5 separate regions of the Homo sapiens genome follow, and regions 1, 2, 3 and 4 are each linked to region 5. The links come from fine-mapping of genetic effects on gene expression. A gene starts in region 5. Each other region holds a variant in brackets. All regions are shown on one strand. Distances are from middle to middle. Region 1 overlaps ADAM23 (ADAM metallopeptidase domain 23). Region 2 overlaps ADAM23 (ADAM metallopeptidase domain 23). Region 3 overlaps ADAM23 (ADAM metallopeptidase domain 23). Region 4 overlaps ADAM23 (ADAM metallopeptidase domain 23). Region 5 holds the start of ADAM23 (ADAM metallopeptidase domain 23).

The links. PIP is the estimated chance that this variant, and not a neighbour inherited with it, causes the effect. A credible set is the group of variants that fine-mapping cannot tell apart.
Region 1: its variant is the best candidate, but not a certain one, in a credible set for the expression of ADAM23 in skeletal muscle (GTEx, PIP 0.51).
Region 2: its variant is the best candidate, but not a certain one, in a credible set for the expression of ADAM23 in tibial artery (GTEx, PIP 0.68).
Region 3: its variant is the best candidate, but not a certain one, in a credible set for the expression of ADAM23 in esophagus mucosa (GTEx, PIP 0.81).
Region 4: its variant is the best candidate, but not a certain one, in a credible set for the expression of ADAM23 in whole blood (TOPMed, PIP 0.61).

The regions. Positions count from the first base shown.
Region 1 is chr2:206,609,602-206,615,673 of GRCh38, forward strand. It overlaps ADAM23 (ADAM metallopeptidase domain 23), which reads left to right. Exons shown (of 26, transcript NM_003812.4): 25 at 309-399. Among named protein-coding and RNA genes, the nearest start is that of FAM237A, 30 kb to the right of the region's middle. RefSeq lists an enhancer at 4,983-6,072. The variant G/A (reference allele first, on the strand shown) is at 3,181.
Region 2 is chr2:206,596,832-206,602,903 of GRCh38, forward strand. The region is part of intron 24 of ADAM23 (ADAM metallopeptidase domain 23); the gene reads left to right. Among named protein-coding and RNA genes, the nearest start is that of FAM237A, 43 kb to the right of the region's middle. The variant G/A (reference allele first, on the strand shown) is at 3,235.
Region 3 is chr2:206,490,737-206,496,808 of GRCh38, forward strand. The region is part of intron 3 of ADAM23 (ADAM metallopeptidase domain 23); the gene reads left to right. Among named protein-coding and RNA genes, the nearest start is that of ADAM23, 50 kb to the left of the region's middle. The variant C/CG (reference allele first, on the strand shown) is at 2,658.
Region 4 is chr2:206,526,024-206,532,095 of GRCh38, forward strand. ADAM23 (ADAM metallopeptidase domain 23) reads left to right here. Exons shown (of 26, transcript NM_003812.4): 4 at 4,862-4,925. Among named protein-coding and RNA genes, the nearest start is that of ADAM23, 86 kb to the left of the region's middle. The variant A/G (reference allele first, on the strand shown) is at 3,123.
Region 5 is chr2:206,440,718-206,446,789 of GRCh38, forward strand. ADAM23 (ADAM metallopeptidase domain 23) reads left to right here and starts at 2,815. Exons shown (of 26, transcript NM_003812.4): 1 at 2,815-3,363; 2 at 4,590-4,807. The coding sequence starts at 3,150. RefSeq lists a silencer at 3,260-3,389.

The DNA.
Region 1 (6,072 bases), 170 kb after region 5:
AGGGGAAGAGAAGAAGGATGTGTAAAGACAGCAAGTGGGGCCTATTTGCTTCAAATTCTGTGAAAGGTGAATTTAATGGAACTTAATTGTCAATGGTGCAGAAACTTTAGATTTAAAGGCATATAAATCCAAGCAACGCTCACCGTAGCATCTAAAATGCAATTAAGCTAAGTAAATAAAGGCAATTTAAATGTTTAGCCGTCTTTTACACAGGATATTTACTTCCTGAAACTGCTTAACTGCCTTTCCCTTGTGGTAACGAAAGTGGTTGGTTCATATGACTCTCTTCCCATGATCCTTTGTCACAGGTCCTAGTGCCACCAATCTCATAATAGGCTCCATCGCTGGTGCCATCCTGGTAGCAGCTATTGTCCTTGGGGGCACAGGCTGGGGATTTAAGTAAGCAACGCCGCATGTCTTCTTCTCAGTGGCTCTGGCATTTCTCTTTTCTGCTTACATAACCAAGTTTTGAGTTCCTGCTACAAGAGCTTAGGTTCTGTCAGTCAAACTGCAAAAAATAAGTCTTTTTATTCAGAAATGGGTTAGAAATGAAGAAACACGGACCCTCAACTGTCATTTTCAGGCAAGTGGAAATGTAGAAGGAATTCATATACACTGATTTTTAAGGAGAACAACGAAGTTCTTTGGTAGAAGACAGTCCAGCTTGTAAGAGCAGGCACTCTGAGATACATTCATTTCTACACAGGAAATCGAGGAAACCATGTAGTTGGAAATAAGTGGATGTAAATTGCTTGTATCTGTTTAAAACTTGTTTGTAGTCCACTGATATTTTGAAATTTTCACAACCTAAGTAATTATGCAATCATTACTTGTATTTTTCATATGTAACATAGTATATGTAGCTTTGTGATTTGAAAAGCTTTATAGTTTAATGAAAACAGATTTTAAAAGTATTTGTATAATCCTCGACCAACTGAATTGGTTTTAAATCAGAATTTGAAAAATGTGGCTTTGTGACACTTAGTATTTTCTAATCAAGGACTAAATATTGACCTGACAGGTAGGCCTGGTGTGTTTTCATAGTGACCTTTTAGTTTGGATTGCACACTGCTTACTGAACTAAGATTGTTTAAATAGACACACTGGGTATTCACAAATAAACTTCAATTGTGATCAAAATTTTTAAAGCTGATTTATCCAGGCTGGCTATTTCTACACTCCAGAATCATTGGATAATTGCTTTTTATACCTTTTCATGCTATAGTGAGTTGATGATTATGATTTGTAGGTAAGCCCTCCTGTGCCTCCTGTGATAAATTTTCAGCCAGATTCACAGAAACAAATTTAAGTGGGAAATAAGACCATTACCCAAATTCAAAACCCACTTTGCCTGCATCTGGTTACTCAAAAGAGGAAGCTTTTGCCCTGAACTATCTGAATAATTGCCTTAATTATAAACTTTATATGTTTTATATTTGGGATTTTGAATTCAATATGTTTCAGCCAGTTAAAGTGTTATTTTTAGAAGCTGATTAAAGAAACCAAAGATGATTTAAATACATTCAACATTTTCTGCTAATTTGTTATCATATTAAGATTTATTGAGTAAGTCTACAGTTTTGGAGTGCCTTTAACTTGAAATAGTATTATAAAATTATACGTCTTTTCTCTCGGTATATTTGTAGAGTTGAACTTGTTTAGTAATGTAGTCTTGGCATCAGTGTGTTTTCAAAAACACACTCATAAAATGGACAACTCATATTTAAATTTATTGTTTTGGTATTAATAAAATATTGCCCACATAGTGAGTCACGCATGTGGCATCTAGTAAGAAATATGTTTTCGTTTGGGCGGACCTAATTCAAGCAAAACTTTTCTTAGTGTTCCACTGCTACAAAAAAGTCATTGAACATTATAGTACTGCCATACTCTTATTATTTTATAATGCTTCCTTGAACTTTTTCATTAGTATGCCTCAAGAAAAATAAATCTGGATCATGCCCAGGCTTATGCCTCATTTGGCGTTAAGAAATCCCGGTTTCAAAGGCCTGGAAAACAGTCTATTACACGTCTTTGCCGTCTAGCCATATGCAATGCCAAATTTATCATTGCAGTGTTTCGAGAGAAGAGCACACTATTCTGTAGCAGGACCTCAAAACAGTGGCCTGGCCTAGCTCACAGCTTGAATTGCATGTTTCTTTGGGGAAAAATGGAAAAGCCTTTATCACTGTGTATATAAGTGGATTAGGCCCTGTAAAGATTCTTTATATCTGAGAGAGAGAGAGATCTCGTTATCACAAGAACAGAAAACAAAAGGTGGGGGATCAGCACTTAGTGAGATGAGAAACAGCCTTTGCTGACTGCTGCCTGGTTGTTGCTGTGTAGGGACCTGTACTGCTGAGCTGAGTCAAAGCCCCTTCCTGTGCCCTGTAACTCTGATAATCACTTTCAGGGAGAACTGTGTAGAAAGACACACAATAGGGTGAAGTATTTCATGCCCCGAAGCAAAGAAAACGATGAAGACTAAGAATAATTCCAGAACATGTAACTTCAGGAGTTTAAATTTGGAGAATGTGCTACTCCTGGGTGACTGTTGGTTGCTACATGAGGACCTTAATTTGCTTTAGATTTTAGTAGTAACTGTGTGGTTTGTGTTCAGCTTTAAATAACACTTCTACCTTGTAATAAAAGGCTTTTGGTGCTGAATGATAATGTTTAGATTTTCCCACCACTTGGACAGTTCTGGAGATTACTAGTCTGGAGATAATTCGTAAGTATAATTATTTGCTATTTGAACTGAAAGCCTTTGGGTTTGAGTTCAATGTAAATGTTTAAAAAGAAATTCCTTTAGAATCAGAAGTTGAAAATAGTTTGTACAAAAGATTGTTCTAAATGCTGCTATTGGGAATCCCTCCTGATACCAGGTTTTTATTTCTAGAAGAAAAGTTGGTAAGGTAACCTGAACAATTTGAGGGCATGTCAACTTTTTGATTAAAGGAAAATACAGTAACTACTCAGGGAAAATACTATATTTTCCTAATGTCACATTTCTTTAGGTGTACTAGTGAGTAGTTTAGATGTAGAAGTATCATACTATACGTGACCTGCCCAAGTATAAATGAGAAATACAGCTATGCTCTAAGCCCTGACCTTGTCTGCCATTCTTTAAAGTTCTTTCCTTAAACTATTATTTCCTCTGAAATAGGTGGTAAAAAGCAT[G/A]AAAATGTGTGCATGTATGTGAATGTGTGCACATTTGTGTGTGTGAAGTGATAATAAAGATGTATCAAGATTATTATAATCTGAAAATAATACTGATTTAAATTACATACTTCCTTTTAGTAGATTAGTTGAGTCAGACCGCTTTGGTTAATGCAAGCAAGACTTCCACAAGCAAGGTTGTGGATTTCCTGAAGAATTTTTAAATGTTTTATTTGGTAGATTTTTAAAAAATATTGTCACATATTGTGTAATGTTATGGGTAGTAACTTTGCTTAATTTCTTTTTCTTTTTTTTTGAGACAGAGTTTTGCTTTTATTGCCCAGGCTGGAGTGCAGTGGCATGATCTCAGTTCACCGCAACCTCCGCCTCCCAGGTTCAGGCGATTCTCCTGCCTCAGCCTCCTGAGCAGCTGGGATTACAGGCATGCGCCACCACGCCCAGCTAATTTTGTATTTTTAGCAGAGATGGGGTTTCTCCACGTTGGCCAGGCAGGTCTGGAACTTCCAACCTCAGGTGATCCGCCAGACTCGGCCTCCCAAAGTGTTGGGATTACAGGCATGAGCCACTGTGCCCAGCCAACTTTGCTTAATTTCATACTCCAGAAGTATGAGGTTACTAAGGGTATGATTAGTCGTAGAGTCCCAGGTATTGAGGGTCTTAGGAATTTCTCTATGAAATCCTGTGAAAAACGAACATAGGCATGTGGCACACCAATTTGCTCTACTTCTATATCTGCATTTATTTTCATTCACCCCATGCTCCTGTTCTTCCCCATCACCCACACACAAGAATAAAGTTATGAGCTGTGGTGCAGAGGATTGCAAACCTCTGTCCTAGTTGACTCATGGAGACTCATGACACCTACCCAACATTAAATGATGATACTGCTTGATTCGACTGTTAGAGCTGTTGCTTTTACTGGACATTAGAAAAAGCAGGACCATTTTAGTAGCATCTTCCCTAAAGCTTAGGAAAGGTGAAAAGTATATGAAAAGAGAATTTCATATCTCCATTTAAAAGTGAACAGGATTGTCTTCAGCACCTTAGGCGTTGCTATTTATCTGATATTCCCTAAATTTGAATGTAGGGTTTTACATGCACATTAGTAGGTGATGGTGGTAGGAAAAGAGAAATTCTAGGTGATGGTAGGAAAAGAAATGAAGGTAATAGTGACATGGTTTGTTGAAAATTGAAATCAAAAGGACTACAGGATGAACACTGAGCTTTTCCAGTGATACCGTAACACCTCAGTCTGTAGAACCTCATCACCACGTCTTACTCTCCCGCTACTTGCCCTGTCCATGGGATTCAGTGGCAAAGTGGATTTCATCAGTGGCCATACTGGCCTGGCATAGCTACTCCTTACATTAAAAGTGTTAATTTAATATTAATAAGTCTGTGTAATTATCATACGTGATTCCTTCTCTCTGAGAAGTTATTTGTGTTAAAAGCTCTTCTGAGCCTGACTCTGGATTTAAGAGATTCTGTCTGGCCTACGTTCCATTTTATTGGACATGTTAAAGAAAAGGCTGTTTATGTACTCACACAAAATGAAAAAGAGCTATATCTAGACTATTACCAGCAAAGTTAAGAGTTATCTGAAGCTGGGCATGGTGGCTCATGCCTGTAATCCCAGGCTGAGGTGGACAGATCGCCTGAGGACAGGAGTTCGAGACCAGACTGGCCAACATGGTGAAACCCTGTCTCTACTAAAAATACAAAAATTAACCGGGCATGGTGGTGCACGCCTGTAATCCCAGCTACTCGGGAGGCAGAGACAGAATCCCTTGAACCCGGGAGACGGAGGTTGCAGTGAGCCGAGACTGCGCCATTGCACTCCAGCCTGGGCAACAAGAACAAAACTCTGTCTCAAAAAAAAAAAGAGTTATCTGAATGTCAAGTCAGATAAAATTTGAAAGGAACTTAATATTGTTAATTATATTTTCTCAAAAGAGTAAACACCATTTTTTGTGGGGGCCTTTTGATTTTTATTGAATTAGGAAATTGAATTAAATTTGGCTAGTCTTTCCACGAGGAGGATAACCAGACTGCTGTTTTTTTGAATTCCATGACTGTATCCCAGTTCAAAATGAGAAGCCTGATTCCCTTAATGCCTGGGACTCCTGGGTTAGGCACTTTCTCTTTCATGGTACCAGGCTGGCCAGGAAGATCGGTGCATTTCCCTGCCCCAGCGCCCCAGGGAAGTGAGCTCAGTGTATGGTGGCCTAGGAGGGGTTGGGCTAGGGACACTTCGTCAGGGGGTGACTCAGCATAGAATGATAAGAATGTGCTAACCATGGATAAATATATGCCCTTGAAAGAAGAACTAAAGGCTTTACGGCTCTGAGACGGTTATTGTTACTGAAAGAGTCTTGCTTTAATTTTGTGTAGATGTTATGTGTATAATGTATATTGTAGACAAAAGTCCAGATTATTTCAGAAGTAGTAAAAATGGATGAAAGCTGTGAAAATGTAAGCTTTATGGATTATGCTAGTGTTTTATAATGATCCAGAAATACCTTACAGGTTATGAGAAAGTTAATTACCTTCAGAATCCTAGTGAGCGGAGGGTATTCAGAGGAAACCGTTATGAAGAAAGTCAGCAAGGACCTGCCCGCAGTAGTTGTACTTTCACATTAAAATTGAACTGAAAGAATATTTTTTTCATAGAGAAAATTCAGACCGTTCTCAACATACAGTGACTGTGATGGTTTTACAATTTATGTGTGAGGCACCTTCACAGTCCGCTTGCCACAGGAGTGTTCATCTCTGTCCTCATCGCAGTGTGGCCTCCCTTGTAGAGGAGCTCACTTTCCCCCTGCTGGGACATCAGTGGAAGAGCTAAGGTCCTGGAATGCCCCATTGGTGTTCAGAGTCCATTTTCATCCAGAA
Region 2 (6,072 bases), 160 kb after region 5:
AGGATCAGGACCTAAGTCCTAAGTGCCTGATCTCAGACTCTTGTTCTCTTCCCATCCATTATATCATCTTTTTTTTTTTTTTTTTTTTTTTTTTGAGACAGGATCTTGCTCTGTCACCCAGGTAAGAGTGTAGTGGCACAATCATGGCTCACTGAAGCCTCAAACTGCAAGGCCCAAGAATCCTGCCACCATGCCTGGCTAATTTTTTATTTTTTGTAGAGACAAGGTGTCACTATGTTGTCCAGGCTGGTCTTGAACTCCTGGCCTCAAGTGATCCTCCCGCCTTGGCCTCTCAAAGTTCTGGGATTATAGGTGTGAACCACTGCACCCGCCCCTCTTACATCATCTTTTTTTTTTTTTTTTTTTGAGACAGAGTCCGACTCTGTCGACCAGGCTGGAGTGCAGCGGTGTGATCTTGGCTCATCGTAACCTCTGCTGCCTGGGTTCAAGAGATTCTCCTGCCTCAGCCTCCTGAGTAGCTGGGATTACAGGCACCTGCCACTGCGCCTGGCTAATTTTTGTATTTTTAGTGGAGATGGGGTTTCATCATCTTGGCCAGGCTGGTCTTGAACTCATGACCTCATAATCCACCCACCTTGGCTGGGATTACAGGTGTGAGCTACCGCGCCTGGCCTCTTACATCATCTTATAATGTAGTCTGTGTTATCAGGAGTATGGTAATCATTTTTCATTATTCTCCCGATTCTCAACCCCTCATACAATTTTCAAAGATCTAGAAAACCCATCAGTCACAAACAGGCCTACTACAGCATCTGTTACATTGTACCTAAGAAACCAAGGAAATACTAGAACCAGTTTTTATATACAGGGATGACGTTGTACATCAGCTTCTTTATCATGGTACTGCTAACAGTTTTTTTGTAACTGCCGTGCTTTTCTCTGACAGGTAGGAAAATGCATATAGGATTAGTACCATTTAGATCAGCTTAGTTTTGGATGAAAGTTTATTGAAACTCTCTGAACTTCAGTATAGTTTATATGGGAAAAGATGATTTCAGATGCAGATGAAGCTCTGTAGTCCTCAATTCCTGAAGAGATTTAGGCTGATTCAGGCGCATGTGAATTGTTCAGTAATAGTGGGTGTGTTAAAACACATTTTATGCATTTGCTTAATATGCCCATGATATTAAAATTCTGTAAGAATCATAATCACACCCTCACAGTCTATTTCTGTTCTCCTTCTTCTATTTCTAAAAGGGAACGTATTCCACTTTTACACTTAGTCTTTTGTTACTTTAAAACTAGAACAAAAAATTCTTGGATCCACCTTCTGAAGTTAGATTTAGAGAAGATTTAAGCTCTAACAAGAGAAGCCAAGGTTCATTCTTTCCAAATTTTCTCTCCACAGTGTTTCTGTGATTTTTTTTTTAAGATCTAGATGCTATTTCCTCAAGTGATGTATAAAGATGCCTCAACGGATGAGCAGAGCTAAATTTACTTAGACTCTGCCTTTTTTTCTTTAAGTAGAGTAGGGGGTTATTAATTGTCTGGTTCTGTAATATCTATTCCCTGTTCCTTCACCCACCCATGCCTAAAAATCTTTGGAGGCATTAAGTAAAGAAAGTCACATTCTAGAGAAAGAGTACTCACAGCTGCCTTTTGTTTTGTTTTGCTTTACTCTCTCCATTTAATGTGGTAGTATCCCACACTACCTTTAAAAAAAAATAACTTTTTTGATCCTTCAAGTAATACATACTTATTGTAGAAAAATTTGAAAATACGGAAAATATTAAAACTCAGAGGTGCTCAAGATAAGCCTTATTGGGCCTGGCTCAGTGGTTCGCGCCTGTAATCCCAAGACTTTGGGAGGCCGAGGGCAGGTGGATCATCTGAGGTCAGGAGTTCGAGACCAGCCTGGCCAACATGGTGAAACCCCATCCCTACTAAAAATACAAAAATTAGCCAGACACGATGGCACATGCCTATAATCCCAGCTACTTGGGAGGCTGAGGCACGAGAATTGCTTGAACCCAGGAGACAGAGGTTGCAGTGAGCCAAGATCGTGCCACTGTACTCCAGCCTGGGTGATAGAGTGAGACACTGAGCCCCCTACTCATCCCCCAAAAAAGAGGCCAGGCACGGTGGCTTACACCTGTTATCCCAGCACTTTGGGAGGCCCAGGCAGGCGGATCACCTGGGGTCAGGAGTTTGAGACCAGCCTGGCCAACATGGTGAAAACCCATCTCTACTAAAAATACAAAAATTAGCCGGGCATGGTGGTGCGTGCCTGTAGTACCAGATACTGGGGAGGCTGAGGTAGGAGAATCGCTTGAACCCAGGAGGTGGAGGTTACAGTGAGCCGAGATCGTGCCATTGTACTCCAGCCTGGGTAACAGAGCGAGATTCCATCTCAAAAAAAAAAAAAAAAAGAGATAAGCATTCTGGTATGCTTCTTTCCTGTTGCATTTTTCTTTTTCCATTTTTAATGAAGACAATGGAGTCATTGCAAAGTTATCTATTGGTTCTAAAATTATTAAAAACCTTATGAATCTCTAATAATTTTGATTAAATTGAAAATGTCATTAAATGAAATAAATGACCTAGTTATTTTTATAAATATTTACATTTCCAGAAAATTCAAGCAATTTTAGTACAAGTAAATAATAGCTTTTATCTGTAATAGCTATCTATATCTTTTTAACCTCTATTTAAAAAATCTATTAATATACTGGTAAAACAGAAACTAAAAAATTTTAAAACTCTGTTGTAGATTTTATTATTTTGTTTTTGATTGTCAGGTTAAAAGAAGATTCCAAGTGAGAAATTATGTGCTTTTCGTTTTATTCAGTTAGCAAATATTTATTGACTGTCTACTATTTAAAAGATAGCGTATGCTTGGCACACAGACACTCCATAAATATTACACTCTTCTCTTTTGAAATATGCAAAGGAAATGAGATGGTGCATGCTAGTGCCACTTTTCAGTTTATCCATATTCATTTGTTTTGTTGCCTTGCCGACGAGTAATAGGTAATGGACTCAAGTTATTAAAACAATCAGTGTTTTACTTACTGTAGGCTCAGCAGTGTGTGAGACACTAAGATTTTTCTCAAAAAATGCATGTTGTGGCCGGGCACGGTGGCTCACGCCTGTAATCCCAGCACTTTGGGAGGCCAAGGCGGGCGGATCACAAGGTCAGGAGATCGAGACCATCCTGGCTAACACAGTGAAGCCTCGTCTCTACTAAAAATACAAAAAAATTAGTTGGGCGTG[G/A]TGGCAGGCACCTGTAGTCCCAGCTACTCGGGAGGCTGAGGCAGGAGAATGGCGTGAACCTGGGAGGCAGAGCTTGCAGTGAGCTGAGATCGCGACACTGCACTCCAACCTGGGCAACAGAGTGAGACACTGTCTCAGGAAAAAAAACCAAAAACTGCATGTTGTATCTTTTTTCTCATGATCCAACTGGTTTGGTTGGCACCTGCCTGATTGAGCACAGTGTTTGGGCCCTCCCCAAATGCTTGCCATTTATAATGGGCACCACCCACAGTGGCCAATCATATCCATAGATGAAGGTTTTCTGTATAGGTGCAGTAAGAGTATTAAAAATACTTAGTTTTATTTAATTTCAATGTGCTTCCATTATATAGAGAAAAAAATTCAAGAAACATAATGAAAATATGGCCTTTTTAAAAATCATGAACATGGGCATAAAAGATAAATTGTACCCAACTGCCCTTTGGATCAAGACCAAATTAGTAAAAATGAAGGCGAATTCTATGACTCCGTCTTCACTGATTTGAGAATGTCAGAAATGAACTGATGTGTTTTGTGTATTTCTTTTATTTTAACTATAAGTTCCTGGAAGAATAGGAAATTCAACCTCTCCTGTGTGAGGACTGAAAGCATACCTGAAAGCATTGCCACTGTAGTCACCCTGTACTTACTACAGTTGTCCACTATGGACCCATAATTTAAGGCATGCTAGATTATTCACGCCAACTTCTCAAACCAAACTATTGAAAGACAAGAAATAAGATCTCAAAGCACAAACCATGTGAGCAAGGATTTTTTAAAAAAGATTTTTGTCACATTATTTATTTTTTCTACGTTGTTCATTTCACATGCAAAAACCCTTTCTTAAGTTTATTTTTAATTTTTTATATTTTTTAAGCCTAGTCCTTCTCTCAACTTGTTTCCACTGAAATCATTATAGAAAATTATTTTGCTTTGTTCTACAAGGACAGAATGTATTTTAACTCTGTTTAAAAGACCTAGAATTCTCTCCTGTTACAGGGAGACCCACATCAAGTACCCCAATTATTGTCTGTATGTAGACACATTCTCAAGGTGCTTACTATAGAATACAGTGGAACTTTTCTCATTTGATAGTTTACATCACCATTGTAAGAAGGAAGAGAAACTGGGACATAGGTAATGTTTTCAGTGATATGTATGGGCAGATATTCCTGGGAAGCTTTGGTCAGACCTTTTCATCACAACCACACTCATCAAATCAGAAATGAAAAGGGCCTTAGAAAGAATTCAGTCTAGACCCCTTGTTTTACAAATGAAGAAACTAAGTTAGTTTTCAGGGTTAACAAAGAGTGAGAGGCAGAGCCAATAATATAACATAATCACCTTATCTTGAGCCAAATGCTTTTTTCTGTTATTCCATACTCCTGTTTTGAAGTTGAATAGTGAGGCTAGGCACAGTGGCTCACGCCTGTGATCCCAACACTTTAGGAAGCTGAGGTGGGCAAATTGCCTGAGCCCAGGAGTTCCAGACCAGCCTGAGCAACATGGAAAAACCCCGTCTATATAAAAAAATAAAAAAATTAGCCAGTTGTGGTGGCATGTGCCCATAGTCCCAGCTACTTGGGAGGCTGAAGTGGGAGGATCACCTAATCCCATGAGGCAGAGGTTGCAGTGAGCCAAGATCACACCACTGCACTCCAGCCTGAGCAAGAGAGTAAGACCCTTCTCAAAAAAAAAAAAAAAAAGCTGAATATTAAGTTATTCTGCTAGTTCTCATAGCACAATAGTAAACAGAAAGTGAAACAATAACCAGGTAGTAATCAAGCTTATTAACTGATCCATTATTGTCAGTGATGCTTTTTATGGAATTAGATAAGAAAGGAAGTATTATATTATTATCATTTAGTATTTTTAAAATAATAGTTTTGAAGTCTTATTTTCTGAGGTATTAACCTTGAGGAGTATTTAGTGTTTACATTTACCTTTTGCAATATATCCTTTTGGTGACTGTCTTCGTCAGTGCACAAATCTTTGATTTTATAGTTTAGATGATTAGATATGAGAAGTTATCCTTATCATATATGATTATGCTCATGTATAATTATGTGCTACCTGGATATTTTTCTCAAATAACAATGGCCTTATCAATAACCCAAGGATATATCAAGTTTAAAAATTTTTTAATAACTGAATTTATTTTGTTTCAGTTCAGAAAAACCCTATTTTCATTGACAGCATAAACTGAAATATATTCTTACATGAAATCATTTATTTTGCATCCTTTTAGACATTTGTCCATGTATCTAAAAATGAACTTGTTTTTTTCTTTTATGGAAAACAGTAAGGAGATCTGATTGTATGTATAATGTATTGAAATATGGAGCTACATACCAATATTATACACTAGTATATAAAGAGTTTATTTAGTATTTACTTTTCTTGTCTTGAATGGTAGTGGAATAATAAATCCCTGAAGAAAGCACTTTGGTCCATGGAATACAAATGATGACTTTGATGCCTCCTGCCTGTGAAGTATCAAAAGATACAGGATTTTAACCCCCTTTGGAATCACTTGGGGGAAATAATGCATCTTCTTATTTGAGAAACTCTCTAAAAATAAGGAAAAAAACCCACTCAATTTCAAAACAGCACATTTTCAAAATGTCTGAAGCATGACATGTCTATAAAGGAATTCTACATATAAAATAGAAAATCTTAAGAAAAGGAGAAAATTTATAGTTTTTGATATTTTATACTTACCAAAAATTCTGTCTTTTAGCACAAGTAAACCTAGGTAGCAGGGACCAAGACTGAAAATAATAATAAACCAACAAGTAATGGAAATAAGCAAGTAAACAA
Region 3 (6,072 bases), 50 kb after region 5:
ACTTTTTAATTCTAGAGTGCCAGGTAACTCTTTTTGTTGCCATATTTTCTCTGATCAGGGTGATCAGACATTTCTGGTCTGAGTCAACCCATATTGAATGCCTTGGGTATTATCATTTGCTTTTGATGACTCATCTTTATGCTGGTAGATCAGGTCCAGAAAATCTTGAAAACATATACAATAAAAGAAATATTGTCTAAATTTTAGTAGATTCTGGTTCTATTTACTTAGGGTGTCTATGCAACCTACTTTCAAAATGGTTTGAGAATGACTTGCACAATTAAACATAACAAGATTATTAAAAATAAAATCACAACCAAACCATTGATACTTATATACTGATTCTTGATTTTCATAGATGAACAAAATCCAGCATAACTCTTGGGTGGTGAAATTCAATGGATGTTTGCCCTCTGCCTGCCCCTACCCCTGCTTGCCTATTAACAATAATTATTGTGAGTGACTGGGACCCAGGGAGATTAAGCACCAGGCTAGAGAAATGAGGAGGGCCACAGGAGCCAGATTTAGATTTTCTAGGTTCTGGGAGATGAGAAAACTGGGATTGCCCAGAAAAGAGGACCCTGTGGCTACAGTCTTTAGCAGGAGAATAAAAAGTATGGCAACTAAGAATTTGTAGCAAAATCAAAAGAATTTAATTGTTGATGGGATCATATTACACTGTTTATCTTACCTAGGATATAAAAGACATCTCTAGTGAGTCAGGAGACTATTTCTTGACTGGTGGATAAAAGGAGACCCTTTGCGGGTATCCACCCCAATGCAGAATGTGGGCAAATAAAATCTGAACTTGACTCATTTTTTCAGAGCACTTCTTGGTCTTTTGAAGACAAAGACAAATAATGTATAAAAATTCCAGCAGAAGTTAATTGTGACAAAAAATTGAAAAGCACAGAGAATTAGATGTGACCAAGCATCTGAGATAAGTTTATTACAGTAGTTACTGAAATGAGATCTTACCTTTTAGTGGGTTGTGTAATTTTCATTATCTGATACAAGAATTTTATCTCTCTAGAGATATAAATGTTTCCTTGTCAAAGAGGAATTATCCCTTGACGCCTGATGTAGTAGGGCATTCAATAGCATAATGGTTAATGTGTGCAACCATTATTTTTCTTAAATGGGTTTCTCATATTGACCCTCTGTGTTAGCCAAGTGTATAAAGTTCTTTCTAACCTGAGTTGATGGATAGATTTCCATTGACAGAAGCCATTCATGAATGATTCCGAGCACTTTTATTTCACAAATGTTTATTGAGTGCCTGCTAAGTGCCAGGCACTGTCAAAGTTTGCCTGGAGAAGTCCTTCCCTCATGAAGCTTATAGAACAATGGAGGAGGAAAGACAAATCTGTAGGCATTTAATGACAATCTGAGAAGTACTGTGATGGGGAAAGTACAGGATGTTTTTATCCCACATAGGAGGGGTACCTAACCCAGATTAGAGGTAGAAATGGATAACAAGGTAAATGTTTATGGAGCTAAATGTCTCAACTCAGGCCTAAAGCATGTTTAAGAGGTGGTCAGAAAAGGCTTGAAGGGGGAGAGAGTGTGGAGGCCTGAAGGTAAGCAAGAAACTTGGGACATGGAGTGAGAGAAAATGGAGGCTTTGAGAGGTGAACAGAACCACACAGCTAGTAAGTAACAGCCAAGAACAGACCTAGGAATGCCCATTGTCAAAGCCTTGGAGAGTTGAGACATTATCTAATTCGTTTGTGCTGCTATAACAAAATGCCATGGACTGGGCAATATTTATATATTGTTTATACAATAGAAATTTACTTCTGATGGTTCTGGAGGCTGGGAAATCCAAGACCAAGCCTTGATATCTGGTGAGGGATCTCTGCTTGCAAGATTGTGCCTTGTTGCTGTGTCCTCACGTGGCAGAAGAGCCATATGGAAGGGCCAGGCAATTCTCCCAAAGCCTTTATTGTAAGGGCATTAATCTCATTGATCATCTCATTAATCTCATTAATCTCATTGATAAAGGCAAAGCTCTCATGGCCTAATCACCCTGAAAAGACCCCACCTCTTCATAGGTGGGGTTTAAATTTCCACATGAATTTTGGAGGGACCTATACATTCAAACCATAGCAGACGTTTTCAGTGATAAAGAAGTCTGACTAAAAATGTGTTTGAAAAGCTCTACAAATGTGAACCTTAGAGAAATAAAAAACTTTATATCATTTGTGTCTTAACCTTGCTTTATTTTGAATACTACTATTCATTGCATAAATCTAGTCCCAAACAATAACTTATTAAATTTTCCTCTTGGTTCTCCATAGATTTATATAAAGTAAGGGCTTGACATCACATGAACTGGCTCATTAAGACTCTTGATGGTCATCTGTTGCCAGTGAGAATTGTGTTGTTTTAGAACCATTTTTTGGATGATTCATACACTAGAATCTCATCATCTAGAGTCATTTCTCCTAATCTTTTAAAATTAATTATAAATTAGAATCCCCAAATAAGAATCCTAACTATGGTTTATTATGGGCTATTTATAAAAGTACTCTCTTTAACAAGTTTGTTCTAATGCTTCTTCCATGATGATATCCATGAGCCTTAATATAATATTTAGATTGTGTTTAAAAACAAAATAATCTATACTGGCTTTTTATTTATTTATTTTTTTGAGA[C/CG]GGAGTTTCGCTCTTGTCACCCAGGCTGGAGTGCAGTGGCGCGATCTCGGCTCACTGCAACCTCTACCTCCCAGGTTCAAGCAATTCTCCTACCTCAGCCTCCCAGGTAGCTGGGATTACAGGCATCCGCCACCACGCCCAGCTAATTTTTGTATTTTTAGTAGAGACAGTGTTTTGCCATGTTGGCCAGGCTGGTCTCGAACTCCCGACCTCAGGTGATCCACCTGCCTCGGCCTCCCAAGTGCTGGGATTACAGGCGTGAGCCACCACACCTAGCCTATATTGGCTTTTTAAATGAAACAATTTCTACAAAAAGTTTCACGTCCTTTAATATAATTACAAATATATTTTTCCATTTTACAGGAATATCTTTCAAATAAGAAGGTGGAAATCTCTAATACATTGTAGAGAGCACATTTCATTTCTTCCTCCTTTCTTTTTTGCCCAAGTGAGTTCACACATCCAATAAATCAGACTAAACTACATGTGACCAGAAGGATCTCACAGCATAAGAATAGATTATATCTCTTGTAAATCTCCAGGATTTCTTGTTTTTCTTGAATGTCCCCCTCTCATCTTTATTGAAGATAATGGACAGATAAAAATTATGCATATTTAAGGTATACAAGGTGATGTTTTAATTTTTGTATACATTGTGAAATGATCACCACGCTCAAGCTAATTAACATATCCATCACCTCAGATGGTTATCTTTTTTCTGTTTTTGTGCTGAGACTATGTAAGATCTCCTTTTGCAAATTTCAATTATACAATACAGTATAATTAATTATAGTCACCATACTGCACATTACATCCACTGAACTTACTGATTCTGCAAAATGGAAACTGAAACCCTTTGACCAACCAAGGGATTCTTAGAAACTTACTAGTGTCTGAGGCTCTCCCTTATTACTGTTCATATTTATTCATTAAGGACTGAGCTAATACTTGACCCTAAAAAAATGTTTGCTCTTTAAAGCTGTTCAGTGGTAAAGGGTTTCTTTATATGATTGCTAGCATTTGCCCTCCCTGTGCACTATGCCAGCTCATAGGGAAACAAGAATAAGATGCAGTTCGTTTAAGGAGCCCACAGTTTAGGGTGGGATCAGGGAAAGCTATACAGAGGAGGAGATGGTTGAGCTGTTTTGAAGGATGACTAATTTGAGGGTGAGTAGTTCAGTACTTTTGGGTGTGGTGAGGGACAATAACTTTTTGAGCATCCATTTATTTTAGCTGGCCATTCAGTGGTTGATATCAAATGTTTACTGGATAAATGGAAGTGATGGATTGTTGATACAGCTTAGCTATTTTGCATCTTTTTTCCCACTAGTATCTCAACCTGACACAGCTTTAACAGCCAGAAGTTTTATAAGCTGCAAAAATGAGTACTACTGATATTTTAGCTGAGGTTAAAAATGTACATGTGAAAACCATGGCACGAGAACTATGTGACGAATGCACAAGCCTCAGTAACCAATGCTATCAACTGGAAGAAAGGGTATCAGCGATGGAAGACAAAATGAATGAAATGAAGCGTGAAGAGAAGTTTAGATAAAAAAAGAATAAAAAGAAACGAACAAAGCCTCCAAGAAATATGGGACTATGTGAAAAGACCAAATCTACGTCTAATTGGTGTACCTGAAAGTGACGGGGAGAATGGAACCAAGTTGGAAAACACTCTGCAGGATATTATCCAGGAGAACTTCCCCAATCTAGCAAGGCAGGCCAACATTCAAATTCAGGAAAAATAGAGAACGCCACAAAGATACTCCTCGAGAAGAGCAACTCCAAGACACATAATTGTCAGATTTCACCAAAGTTGAAATGAAGGAAAAAATGTTAAGGGCAGCCAGAGAGAAAGGTCAGGTTACCCACAAAGGGAAGCCCATCAGACTAACAGCTGATCTCTCGGCAGAAACTCTACAAGCCAGAAGAGAGTGGGGGCCAATATTCAACATTCTTAAAGAAAAGAATTTTCAACCCAGAATTTCATATCCAGCCAAACTAAGCTTCATAAGTGAAGGAGAAATAAAATCCTTTACAGACAAGCAAATGCTGAGAGATTTCGTCACCACCAGGCCTGCCCTAAAAGAGCTCCTGAAGGAAGCACTAAACATGGAAAGGAACAACCGGTACCAGCCACTGCAAAAACATGCCAAATTGTAAAGACCATCAAGGCTAGGAAGAAACTGCATCAACTAATGAGCAAAATAACCAGCTAACATCATAATGACAGGATCAAATTCACACATAACAATACTAACCTTAAATATAAATGGGCTAAATGCTCCAATTAAAAGGCACAGACTGGCAAATTGGGTAAAGAGTCAAGACCCATCAGTGTGCTATGTTCAGGAAACCCATCTCATGTGCAGAGACACACATAGGCTCAAAATAAAGGGATGGAGGAAGATCTACCAAGCCAATGGAAAACAAAAAAAGGCAGGGGTTGCAATCCTAGTCTCGGATTAAACAGACTTTAAACCAACAAAGATCAAAAGAGACAAAGAAGGCCATTATGTAATGGTAAAGGGATCAATTCAACAAGAAGAACTAACTATCCTAAATATATATGCACCCAATACAGGAGCACCCAGATTCATAAAGCAAGTCCTTAGTGACCTACAAAGAGACTTAGACTCCCACACAATAATAATGGGAGACTTAAACACCCCACTGTCAATATTAGACAGATCAATGAGATAGAAAGTTAACAAGGATATCCAGGAATTGAACTCAGCTCTGCACCAAGCAGACCTAATAGACATCTACAGAACTCTACACCCCAAATCAACAGAATATACATTCTTTTCAGCACCACACCACACCTATTCCAAAATTGACCACATAGTTGGAAGTAAAACACTCCTCAGCAAATATAAAAGAACAGAAATTATAACAGACTGTCTCTCAGACCACAGTGCAATCAAACTAGAACTCAGGATTAAGAAACTCACTCAAAACCGCTCAACTACATGGAAACTGAACAACCTGCTCCTGAATAACTACTGGGTACATAACGAAATGAAGGCAGAAATAAAGATGTTCTTTGAAACCAACGAGAACAAAGACACAAAAAACCAGAATCTCTGGGACACATTCAAAGCAGTGTGTAGAGGGAAATTTATAGCACTAAATGCCCACAAGAGAAAGCAGGAAAGATCTAAAATTGACACCCTAACATCACAATCAAAAGAAGTAGAGAAGCAAGAGCATACACACTCAAAAGCTAGCAGAAGGCAAGAAATAACTAAGATCAGAGCACAACTGAAGGAAATAGAGACACAAAAAACCCTTCAAAAAATCAATGAATCCAGGAGCTGGTTTTTTGAACAGATCAACAAAATTGATAGACTGCTAGCAAGACTAATAAAGAAGAAAAGAGAGAAGAATCAAATAGACACAATAAAAAATG
Region 4 (6,072 bases), 85 kb after region 5:
CCATATGGAACTTCCTTGTAATGGAAGATATAAACTTTTGGGAGTTTTGACCACATGGCTGTTTATGTGTCTACTTACATTAGAAACATGAATCTCATATTCAAGGATTCCAACAAATACACACACACACACACACACACACACACACACACACACAGACACACACAGACACACGTCTATACACATACATATAAAACTTTCCTGAGGTAAATCTCTTTTTGTGAATTTCCAATTCCTAAATATAATAGCAGCTCTGCTTGTATAGTTGCTGATGATTGTGAAATTCTTTGAACATAGATTTCTAAAAGATATTTGTGATAAATCCTGAAATTAGGACAGTTTAGACAATGTTTCAGTGACAAACATGAAATCTGAGACTTCAGCACTGTAAAATGTTATCTCTTCCCCACACTGCGATATAGTGCAAGTTGAGTAGCTCTTTTAGACAGTTCTTCTCCAAATCATGATGAAAGGGTCTAGGCTGCATTCATATTTCTGTTATGCCATCTGGAGCATGTGGCTTCCAGGGTTGCCATGGAAGAGAGGGCTTAGATAATCCTGCAGGGATTTTAGTGGTCACACTAGAGGGGCAGACATCACTTCCTTCATGTCTCATTAGCCATGATCCATTGTCTTGGCCCTAACCTAACTGCAGCAGAACCTGCAAAATGTGGTCTTATCAGGATGCCAGGAAGGGGAAAATGAAATAGCATTTGGTGGACACACAGCATTATTTCTGCCACAGTTCCCTTCATTGACCTGATTCTTGGCTCATTTGTCATGTTTCAATAGTTTTATATTCTCCTGCTCTTACATGTTCTTCATATTTTGAGTAAAATCATATTTAGTCTCATTCTAGAGTTCCTAGAGTTTTCACCACTTTAGTGGTGCAGATTCACCATGAAGGGCAGAGTGAGTGGGTTCAAGAGTTTCCTTGTTCTAGTTCTTCCACTTTCTTTCACTGGCTTGAACTTCCATCCTACGTTTATTCATTTACTTATAAAGGTCACTCCTCTTTCAACAGATAACCTGCATGAGAAGCATGGGAGTAGCCAGAGAATACAGCTTTTCTGTAGCTTCAGTGATTGAAAAAAGATGTTTATTTTAGAATTTAGGATGTTCAGAGTTTGCCCACAAGTTGTTAGCATCTTCAGAACCAAACATCCAATTGGCTGATCAACAAAGTAAAATGCCAGTTTATATTTGGGTCCGCAATTGCTAAATAGATGAGTATTAGCATTTCAGAACATTCTGTTTCCAACAGGAAATTGTATTAGGACTACAGAAAGCAGAGGTGGAGGAAAGGACAACTCATCTTCAGGCATGTGGAGACATAGATTACCGGTTCCTTCCTGGCTGGGTGGGGCTGGAGACACCACTGCACAATCAACTATTCCCTTCTCCCTTTTTAGTGTTTCTTGTCCATCATCAAAAATTACATTTCACTATTATTTCAAGACTTTTATAATTAATTAGGTTACATTTCAGTTGATGTAATTCACTCTCAAGGAGATTACAAAATAATATTTTTGAGTGAGGTGATCAATCTTGCACATTTGTGCTGATTTTGCTTAGTTTCAATTTGAAAGTTGCATTTTTCACCCTGTTTCCAAGCCCCTATAGCAGGTGTTGGTAGATGTTTGCTCACTCAGCAGATATTGATTAAGGGCCTACTATGCATTAGGCATTATGCCAGGTGCTAGGGATACTGTGATGAGTGGAATAATTAGTTTCAAGGGAGGCTGGCTGTGGTCAGACAGAAGGAAAGAATGGAGTAAATGGGGATGTGTGCTATTTACAGGAAGTAGAAGAGTGGACTGGCATGGTGAGGAGGGGCATATGGTGGTGTATTTCTCTCAGTATTTGCCATAGACCTCCTGAAAAGTAGCTGTTTTTCTTCTTTAAGATTCTAAAATGCCAGAGATACTAGAAACAGGTATGTTCATGAGAAGAAGAGACCCTTAAAAAGAGGGAAATAGGATAATTAAAGTGACCTTTATGAGATTTGGGAATTCATGGTTAGAATGCCCTTGTAATTACAGGCAAAATTAAGATAACGTTGTTTCCAACTCTTAGATGTGCTCCAATGATTGTGTGGTTGAAAATGTTGAAAATAGTAAATTACCTGTAGAGAGACACAGTTGGAATGTAGTTAGGGAGACCTCTCTGCCTCCTGGTGTTGCAGAAGCTTTCTGCAGAAGAATGATACCATCACCAGCTTCATCTATGTATATCATAGTGCTGGTAGCCAACTTAATTAACTAGCAGTGAAATAAGTTTCTGCACCCTGTGAGATATTCCCCATGTATACAGAGTTCAGTAATTGTCATTACTTTTACTATCTGAGATTTTTAAAAAGGAATGAGTAGACATACCACAATTTAGTTTCAAGTGTAGAATTATCCTTCAGTACACATTTGGTTTGTGATTTTAATGGGAAACATGTCTAAAGTTTAAGCATTGGCTTCCTTTCTGTGTTGGAAAGGTTGTCCTTCATCACACACAGGACATACGCAGGACATACCCAGGAGGCCCCCAGTTACTCTGTTGACTGGTGCTCAACACCCCTTTCCAGCCCTCTTCACTGGATTATTTTTAGAATGCATCAGATGCAGCTCTCAAAATGATGCAAAATCATTGAGTCCTCCCATTTTTCAGCTAAAGAAGTAGTGTCACGGTTTCCTAACAAGAAAACCTACTATGAGGCAAAATTATAGAAAATCAGAATAGCAGAATAGGGCATGAGCTGAGGAATCTTCTGCTTTAGCCCTTCATTTTTGCATAAGAAGAAATAAAGACCCAAGTTTAGAGCATACAGCTGGCTTAGAGTGGGACCTACTCTTGTCCTTCAGTTCCCATTAGGATTAAATGAGTTAATACCATTATAGTCCTTATAACAGTACCTGTGCCATAGTAAGTGGTCAGCAAATGCGAGTTATCACTTGTCATTATTCCTAGTGATAGAGCCCAAACAGGAACCTAGATGCCCTAATAATCCAGTGCTCTTCAGGAGGCACATATTTTGTATTTCCACATTGTATAGGGAGAAATATGTTTTAAGAAGTTGAGTTAAAATAAAAATAGTGACTGCCACAATGCCAATTAATGTGTACCTAATCAGC[A/G]TACTCAGTACTCTGTACTGAATAAGTACTAGGCTAAGAAATGCAGTACTTAGCCTAGTACTGCATAGTCTGAGTTAAATACTGCATATTCATGGTTTCCTTTAATCCTCACAATGTTCTATGAGATTCACATCCTTGACCATCTCCATTTGACATACAAGTTGGGGAACTTGCCTATTTAAAAAATAGGTTTTAAACACTATTTGACTTCAATGACTTTCTTAACCTTTGTTATTTATTTATTTATTTTAAATTTCTTTTTCTTTCTTTTGAGACAGGGTCTCACTCTGTCACCCAGGCTAGAGTGCAGTGGTGCAATCGTAGCTCACTGCAGCCTCGATCTTCTGGGCTCAAGCAATCCTTCCACCTCAGGCTCCCTAGTAGTTGGGACCACAGGTGCATGCCACCACACCTGGCTAATGTTTTAAATATTTTGGAAATGGGGGTCTTGCTATGTTGCCAGGCTGGTTCTCAAACTCCTGGCCTCAAACAATTCTTTGCCTTGGCCTTCCAAAGCTGAGATTACAAGTGTGAGCCACTGTGCCTGACCCCTTACCCTTCCTTTTATCCCAGGAATTGGCAAACTATTGCACACAAGCAATCTCTGGCCATTCTTAACTTGTACAGTCTGCAAGTTAAGAATGTTTATATGTGTGTGTGTGTGTATATATACATTTTTTTTTTGAGATGGAGTCTCACTCTGTCTCTCAGGATGGAGTGCAGTGGCATGATCTCGGCTCACTGCAACCTCCGCCTCCTGAGTTCAAGCGATTCTTCTGCCTCAGCCTCCTGTGTAGCTGCGATTACAGGTGCGTGCCACCACGCGCGGCTAATTTTTGTATTTTTGTAGAGATGGGGTTTCACCATATTAGCCAGGATGGTCTTGATCTCTTGACCTCGTGATCCACCCGCCTCAGCCTCCCAGAGTGCTGGGATTACAGGCATGAGTCACCATGCCCGGCTTTGTTTTATGTATTTTTTAATGGTTGAAAAAAATCAAAAGAAGGATAATATTCCATAACACATAAAAATTATGTGAAATTCCAATTTCAGTGTCCATACAGTTTTATTGGAATACAGCCATGCTCATTTGTTTACATACTGCCCGTGGCTGCTTTTGCAATATAATGGCTGAGCTGAGTAGTTGTAGTGGAGCCCGCATGGCCCACAAAACCTAAAATATCTACTCCCTGGCCTTTATAGAAAACCCTTGCTGACCTTTGCTTTATACTCTTCCTTGGTGATTACATTTTATGACATTCCAACTGTTTAGGGCATAATTGTGGAATTTTTATAGGATCTGTCTCCTCAAGTTACTTGCCTTTTGGTTTGTTCTGTATTAATTAACATATCAATCAGATCCTGAATAATGTGAATAAAAAGAGTTCACCGTCCGGGAGGCGGAGCTTGCAGTGAGCCGAGATCGCACTACTGCACTCCAGCCTGGGCGACAGGGCGAGACTCAGTCTCAAAAAGAAAAAAAAAAAAAAAAAGAGTTCACCGTTGGATTGTCTGTGTCTTGTCTTTTTTTTTTTTTTTTTTTTTTCTGCAGATTGGGGAGTAATTTATTCCTGGATACTGTGTGAAACTCGATGATAACCTGTTTTTGTTTCTGTACTAACCATGGACTGCAGCTATTTCTGGTTTGCATGCCCCTCACGTTCATTTATTGAGCCGATTGTTTTTAAACCTCCAAGTGTCTTAGATGCAGAAATCACTCTATTTTCTTTCCTTTGTAGTGGTTTGTTGTCTTCTGATTATGTGGAGATTCACTACGAAAATGGGAAACCACAGTACTCTAAGGTACGGTTACCGGCGTCGGCAAGTACTCTAGTATAAGTGTGCTTATCATAGAGTTGATCAGTGCACACTGCGTTGTTTTGACGTCTGTCTCAGTAAAATCACCTGTGCTCTTTTACAATGATACTATTTTTAGTGAGGAGAAATTTATTAAAATATACAAATGTTTGAGGTAACGTTAGGTATTCAGGACAAAAAATGTTTATTGTTTTGATTATACATGCAGTACCTTTTGTGATAGTATAAAGAGCTATACAGTTCCATATCAGCACCTGAAAGTAGTTAGTAAAGAAGGATGAGGCTCATGGCCATCGAATCTGGATTAGAAGACTGGATGGGCTGTTAGAACGGTTCTTTAGTGCAAATGATTTTGCTGCCCAAGAAGGGCAGAGGACAGGTGGGGGAAGTGAGATTTAGGTAGTACTTTTTCTCTAACCTTCATAACAATTCTATGAGGTGGATGTTATTATTCCTGCTGTACTATGGAAGAAATTAAGGCAGAGAGAGGGCAAATAAGCCTGCTTAAGGCCACGGGACATTGAATATGAGGGTACTTGGGTATCTGATTCCTTCATTTGGAGATGAACTTTCTTGTCTTCAGGGAGGATTAATAAAGAGCAAGTGGATTTGGATTAAAGCAAGAGAGAGAGAGAGATGATTTGTATGTAAGAAACAGTGACCTCCGTCAGTCAGGGTGAAGATCCCCAGAATGGCTACAGAAAGAAACTCTGACTTCTAGGGAATCAACAAGTGCCACTGAACCTGAGCAGTGTCCCAGTTACTGGGGACACCAGAAAGGAAACAAAGTGGGGAAACCTCACTGGATTTTTGTTTGTCTTTTTCCTAGATTGCTAACACATGTCAGCATAAAAGTAGCACCTTTCCCGTATGTGGACTTGTGCCATATAGGTAACTGGGATTTTCAATCTGATGGCTTCTCAGCAAATGTTTATAGGTGTCCTTCATTATAAATACTGCTCAGGAGGCCCTGGCATGTCTCAGGATTTATAACATTTCAATTTGTAATTGGACGTGTTTTCCAGCCTTTGAGTTTTGTGCCACAGATTAAGAACTTTCATGTATCATTCTTATTAGTTGTCAGTTCTTGCCTTAGGTTGCATTTGGGGGTTGTTGAGTCTCCCTAAAAGTT
Region 5 (6,072 bases):
TCTTTATTCCAGTCCATCTTGCTGAATCCCTCTGTTTCCTACCTGTGAGTGCCCCTCTATGAATGCTGATTTGATTCCAGGTACTATACTAGGCTGTGGAGTCAGAGATGACCAAGATACAGCCTTGCTCTCAGTATTTTTTGATGGAAGAATGATGATATGCACATACACGAATACAGAGCAAAGCAGTAGGTGGCAAGTGATTAAGCAAGTCACTAAATCTTATGAAAGCACAGAGGGGAATATTTAGAAGTAAACTCTATAAAAATAAAAATTCTGAACTACCTAATAAGAATATTACTAACTCTACCAAGTTGACCAATTAAATTATTTAATCAGTTAATATTTGATTCTGTTTTTAACCTTCCCTTAAATATATGGCTTAAAGACTAAACTTCCAGTAAATTTTTTCTAAGTAATGTACTCTTTCTCTGACTCATTATTTCATTTATTGATATCTTATTTTGACTCTAGCAATGTCTGTAACCATTAAAGTTCTGTAAATAAATGCAGTCTTTTGACTATAGTACATAAGACAACATCCCTCTTTGTAAATACCCCAACCCCTTATTAGAAACTATATTGAGGCCAGGTGCGGTGGATCACGCCTGTAATCCCAGCACTTTGGGAAGCTGAGGTGGGTGGATCACCTGAGGTCAGGAGTTTGAGAACAGCCTGGCCAACATGGTGAAACCCCGTCTCTACTAAAACTACAAAAATTAGCCGGGTGTAGTGGCACGTGCCTGTAATCCCAGCTAATCCCAGCTACTTGGGAGGCTGAGGCAGGAGAATCGCTTGAACCTGGGAGGCAGAGGTTGCAGTGAGCTGAGATCGCACTACTGCATTCCAGCCTGGGTGACACAGCAAGACACCATCTCAAAAAAAAAAAAAAAAAAAGAAAAAAAGAAACTATATTGAATCCTCATTCCATACCCCAAGTGCATGAAATGATGTGTTGTAACTGGTGGGTGGGTTTGGTCAGTCCAGGTTGGCTGATAGGTTTATTTATCAGAACAGACTTTAAGAGGTTGTCACTGAATTGCAAGAGATGCCTTTCAAGTAACTTGCATCTGGGTGCTTTGCACCTTTCATTTCCCTCTCCCTTCTCATTGCTTGTACATCTCCTTTCTGGCTTGCTTTCTCTCAGGCCCTTTTTCAGGATGCATATTGTGTCAAATATAAATTTGGAAAACCTAGCCAGAGAATACTTGACTTGAGGGAGACAACCCTAAGAACATTGACCTGCAGTGGGCACTCCGGTGGGGCTAGAGTGTTCACTAGCCTGCCCCAAGTGTGACTTCTGCTTGTGTGTATCACCCATTTCTTTATTCATTTAGTACATATTTTCCAAGCGATTTCTCTGTGCCTCAGACACTGTGTGAGGTCCTAGGGACACAATGGTGTGCAGAAGGGAAAACTGTTGTTGCCCTCACATGGGGGAGGTAGCAACAATTACAAATTTACAGGAATAAATATGTGATAATAATATCCTAGCTCAACATAGAAAGGAAGTTATCTCAGTATTTACCTAACAGTTTTGTAATGTGTGTGTGCGCGCGCGTATATGTCTTCTTCTTTTCTCTTTGTTAAGTGTGAGTGGAGAAGATGATGGCTAACACTGAGTTCTGTCATGGCCATGGCACTTTTATACCCACATTCTTTCTTTTAATCATGGAATTCTCCACCCCAGCCCTCACCCCGTGGATGTCGGAGTAAGACAACATTGTTATCACTCAGATTGTCATTGGGAGGGTGAATAAATGAATGCTTGCATTATGAGAGTTTGGGGGCAGAAATATGCCACAGACTCTTATCTGAAGCCATCAGATTTAGTGGCTGCGAACCCACCGAAGTCAGGGATTTACATTTTTTACAGCAACGAGAGAAAACTTCCCCTTTCCTCTGCAGAAGTCAGGACTGGATCTCAAAAATAGAAATGTGTCCTCCTAAATGTGTGCCCATCCCCGTGGTTGACAAACAACGGATTTCCCAAGATAGCTGCCACACACTTGGTTTCTAATCTCTGTATTGCTTCCCCGCCAGAATGTCGAAGTCCTTCCCGAATATGCCCAGTCATACTTTCTGAACTTTTGAGCAAACACCGTCCGGCTTCTTGTGCTTTCCTCAAAGACCCCAGGCACCGGCAGGGAGGACACAGGCCGGGGCAGAGCGCCCCTGCGCGGGGGATTCCTGCCACTCCGCGCCAGCCTGCGGCGCAAACGCTCTTCTCAGCCGCAGTCCCACCCGCTGCTGGCAATCTGAATGAGGAGCCGCGCTATTTTTACCTCCCCGGCTGCAATCCTTTATATTTACATGCAGGAAGCAAATATATAAGGGATTAAGAAGGAGATGCGTGGCCTTAGTTTATCCAGAGCAGGAAGAGGTTGGAATAGGAGAGGGTATGTGAAGTCTGGGGTGGTGGAAAAGGCAGGTGGACTTCGGCTGGTTGTTTTCTCCCGATCATCCCTGTCTCTGGCCTGGAAACCCCCGTACTCTCTTTCTTCTGGCTTATCCGTGACTGCCGGCTCCCCCTCCACCGCCCCCATCTTTTGAGGTACCACCCGTCACCTCCGATGCTGCTTGGGCTGCTGCATCACTCTGCTGCTTTACCCCCTTCCCCGCCCCCCAACAAAGCATGCGCAGTGCGTTCCGGGCCAGGCAACAGCAGCAGCACAGCATCCAGCAACAGCATCAGCACCCGAAGCCCCGCTCGGGCGCGCTCTCGGGGGGCGGGGCGCACGCCCGCTCCGCGCGTCCCCGCGCCGCTCGCTCCCGCGCGTCCCCGCGCCGCTCGCTCCCGCGCGCCGCCTCAGCATCCTCAGGCCCGGCGGCAGCCCCCGCAGTCGCTGAAGCGGCCGCGCCCGCCGGGGGAGGGAGTAGCCGCTGGGGAGGCTCCAAGTTGGCGGAGCGGCGAGGACCCCTGGACTCCTCTGCGTCCCGCCCCGGGAGTGGCTGCGAGGCTAGGCGAGCCGGGAAAGGGGGCGCCGCCCAGCCCCGAGCCCCGCGCCCCGTGCCCCGAGCCCGGAGCCCCCTGCCCGCCGCGGCACCATGCGCGCCGAGCCGGCGTGACCGGCTCCGCCCGCGGCCGCCCCGCAGCTAGCCCGGCGCTCTCGCCGGCCACACGGAGCGGCGCCCGGGAGCTATGAGCCATGAAGCCGCCCGGCAGCAGCTCGCGGCAGCCGCCCCTGGCGGGCTGCAGCCTTGCCGGCGCTTCCTGCGGCCCCCAACGCGGCCCCGCCGGCTCGGTGCCTGCCAGCGCCCCGGCCCGCACGCCGCCCTGCCGCCTGCTTCTCGTCCTTCTCCTGCTGCCTCCGCTCGCCGCCTCGTCCCGGCCCCGCGCCTGGGGGGCTGCTGCGCCCAGCGGTGGGTATGGCCCCGTGCCCTTTGCGTTGGCTTTCCCGCGGGGCCCTGCAGAGGAAAGCGAAGGGCGCGCGGGTCCGTGTGCTCCGGGCTTGTCCCCGGCTCGGCCTTTCCTTCCCTCCCTGCCTGTCTTTCCACCCTTCTCGTTCCCAAACCCCCATTCATCCCAGTTCACTTTTGGAAGTCCATTTCTGTTGCATTCGCGAAAAACCCATTCCAATTCTTGTTGGTTCCACTGGGAGGTGTTTAGTGGATCCTGGGTCCCTCAGCGATCTCTGTGCAACTTGCGGAGGGGCAACCAGTGGATGGGAAATACAGCGAGGGAGCAAGTTGCTACTTGCGTGGTGGAACCTTAATGTGAATGCGGGGAGGATGTAGTGATAATAGTGGTAATGGGCTGTTTCCTCAAATTTCGTATCCGGCGCATTCAGTGCGGTTGGAATTAAGGTGGGGGAGGCACACTTCGGGGACCAAAGAATTAAGGTGCTGAAGACATACTTCATGCACGACCTTTGGTTCTGATTTCTCAAAGTGCTTGTCATTATAATGAACAATTAATATAATACCATCTTCTATATATTGATGATTGGAAGTCACTGAAAGCAGAAAGCTGGCTTTGTCAGGAAAATAAAAAGAAATTGGGAAGCTGCCAGCATCTGTATCCCTACATGGCAAAGTATGTTTGCTCATCTTAAAGTTAAAAGAGAAGGGAATTGTCCATTTTGTTAAAAGAGTCGATTAATATTCGGTATCCATAAATTCAGTACTCAAGTTATCTTAGGAGCGTTCTTAGCTCTTGGATGGGATGCCACTAGGCAGAGTAGAGTTGTGCTTCTGTGGACTCAGAGAAGGGGTGGAGATCGGGGGCAGGACCCCTGAACATGTTCATTTAATGACTCTTCTTCCCTCAAGTTCATTCTACCCCCCCCCCAACACTTAGAAGTATAGATTTGAGTCTGACTAGAAATGTATATATAAGACATAAATCAAAATAAATAGTGCACAGTTGTATAAGCCTTATTGGCTATTTATTAACTTCTCCAGGCCATTTTATTGTTGAAATAACTTGCTTTACTCTAGCTCTACTTCTTAACTGCTTATAAATAGAAAACTTTGTGTTTGAAATTAAAGGAAAAATGCATTTTAGTGCTTATGTATTTATGGGGTAAATATGTGTGTGTTTGTGTATGTTTGTATTTTCTGCTCCCCCACCCCCCTACCTCCACCAGCTCCGCATTGGAATGAAACTGCAGAAAAAAATTTGGGAGTCCTGGCAGATGAAGACAATACATTGCAACAGAATAGCAGCAGTAATATCAGTTACAGCAATGCAATGCAGAAAGAAATCACACTGCCTTCAAGACTCATATATTACATCAACCAAGACTCGGAAAGCCCTTATCACGTTCTTGACACAAAGGCAAGACACCAGCAAAAACATAATAAGGTAGGCAGGAGGCTGGCTATGCAAAAGTAACTATCATGAAGAGTTTTCCTTTGATTTGATTTTCTGCCAGAATCTGAGTTCACAAATTTTACTGCAGCATTTTATTAAGAAAGCAATTAATATTATGATAGGGGAGAAACTGGAAGGAATTAACTTGGGATCTACTGGGATAAGACTGTTGTTTCTCTTCTCTGACTAAACTGGAACTAGAATTTTCTGATACCTGAAATGATATCCATGTATCTTTCAGGTACATTGGGCACTGAACAGTAGTTAAGTGAATGTGTTTATGATTCTAACTTGTTTCTGTGAGGCTTTATGTAAGGGTGCAGTATTCTGCCTTGATATAAAACTGTCTCCCATGATATAAAAACTGCTTTCAATCTGCACATGCAAGATTGCTTCAAGAAGCTATTTGGCTGCAGTGTCTCCATCAGTCTTTCCACTTAGAAATTGAGTGTTTAAACAGTCTGTTTCTTTAATTGATCAGTAGGAGGAAAAAAAAATTTTCTGTTGTATTTTCAATAGGTAAACAATTTGACATTTAAAAAGATTATGGTGACTAGACACAAATTATTTGCATAATATGAAGACCAATTTTGATTGGCATAATTCTTCAGTACCTACTCTGCATTGATTATGAGCAGTTGCTTTACTTTCAGGTTAGTTCAGAAAGTGGAACTGATATTTACCAAGGTATCAGTAGAAGACAAATGTTTAATATCCAAAGAGTTTAAGGGATCTTTTTCCCTGTGTTACTATTCTTTACTTGAATTAATATTATTTTGAACCCCGAGCAGATTTAAACAATGGATTATCGGTTCTTCTGTTGTTTATCGGGAGCAGAAAATAGAGTCTGTATGTTAAATGTTTCATTTTGATCTGTACTTGTTCAGGTGAGAACAACAGTTAGCAATTAACTGTCTAAACATCTAGAATTTAAGAAAGTATCTGCAGTTTACATCATTGTTTTTTATTAGTTTTCTAAAATATAGGTGAGTGGTAACAGTATTTATCCCCATTTTACAAATGGGGAGCTAGAAATTTAAGGCTTTTGGGTGATTTTCCTATGTTGTAAAGCAGCTAATATAAAATTCAGGTGACCTGAATGTTTAATTTTTACTATTTTTTACAAGTTAGGTCTCTGAGAAAGTGCTTTCTTCACCTTGAATATTACTGGAGAGGTGAACTTTCTTTCACATTATTTTGAAGTGGCTGCTACCCACCGTGAGATAAATGTGTCTCTGTTCTCAGCCAGCCCTTTT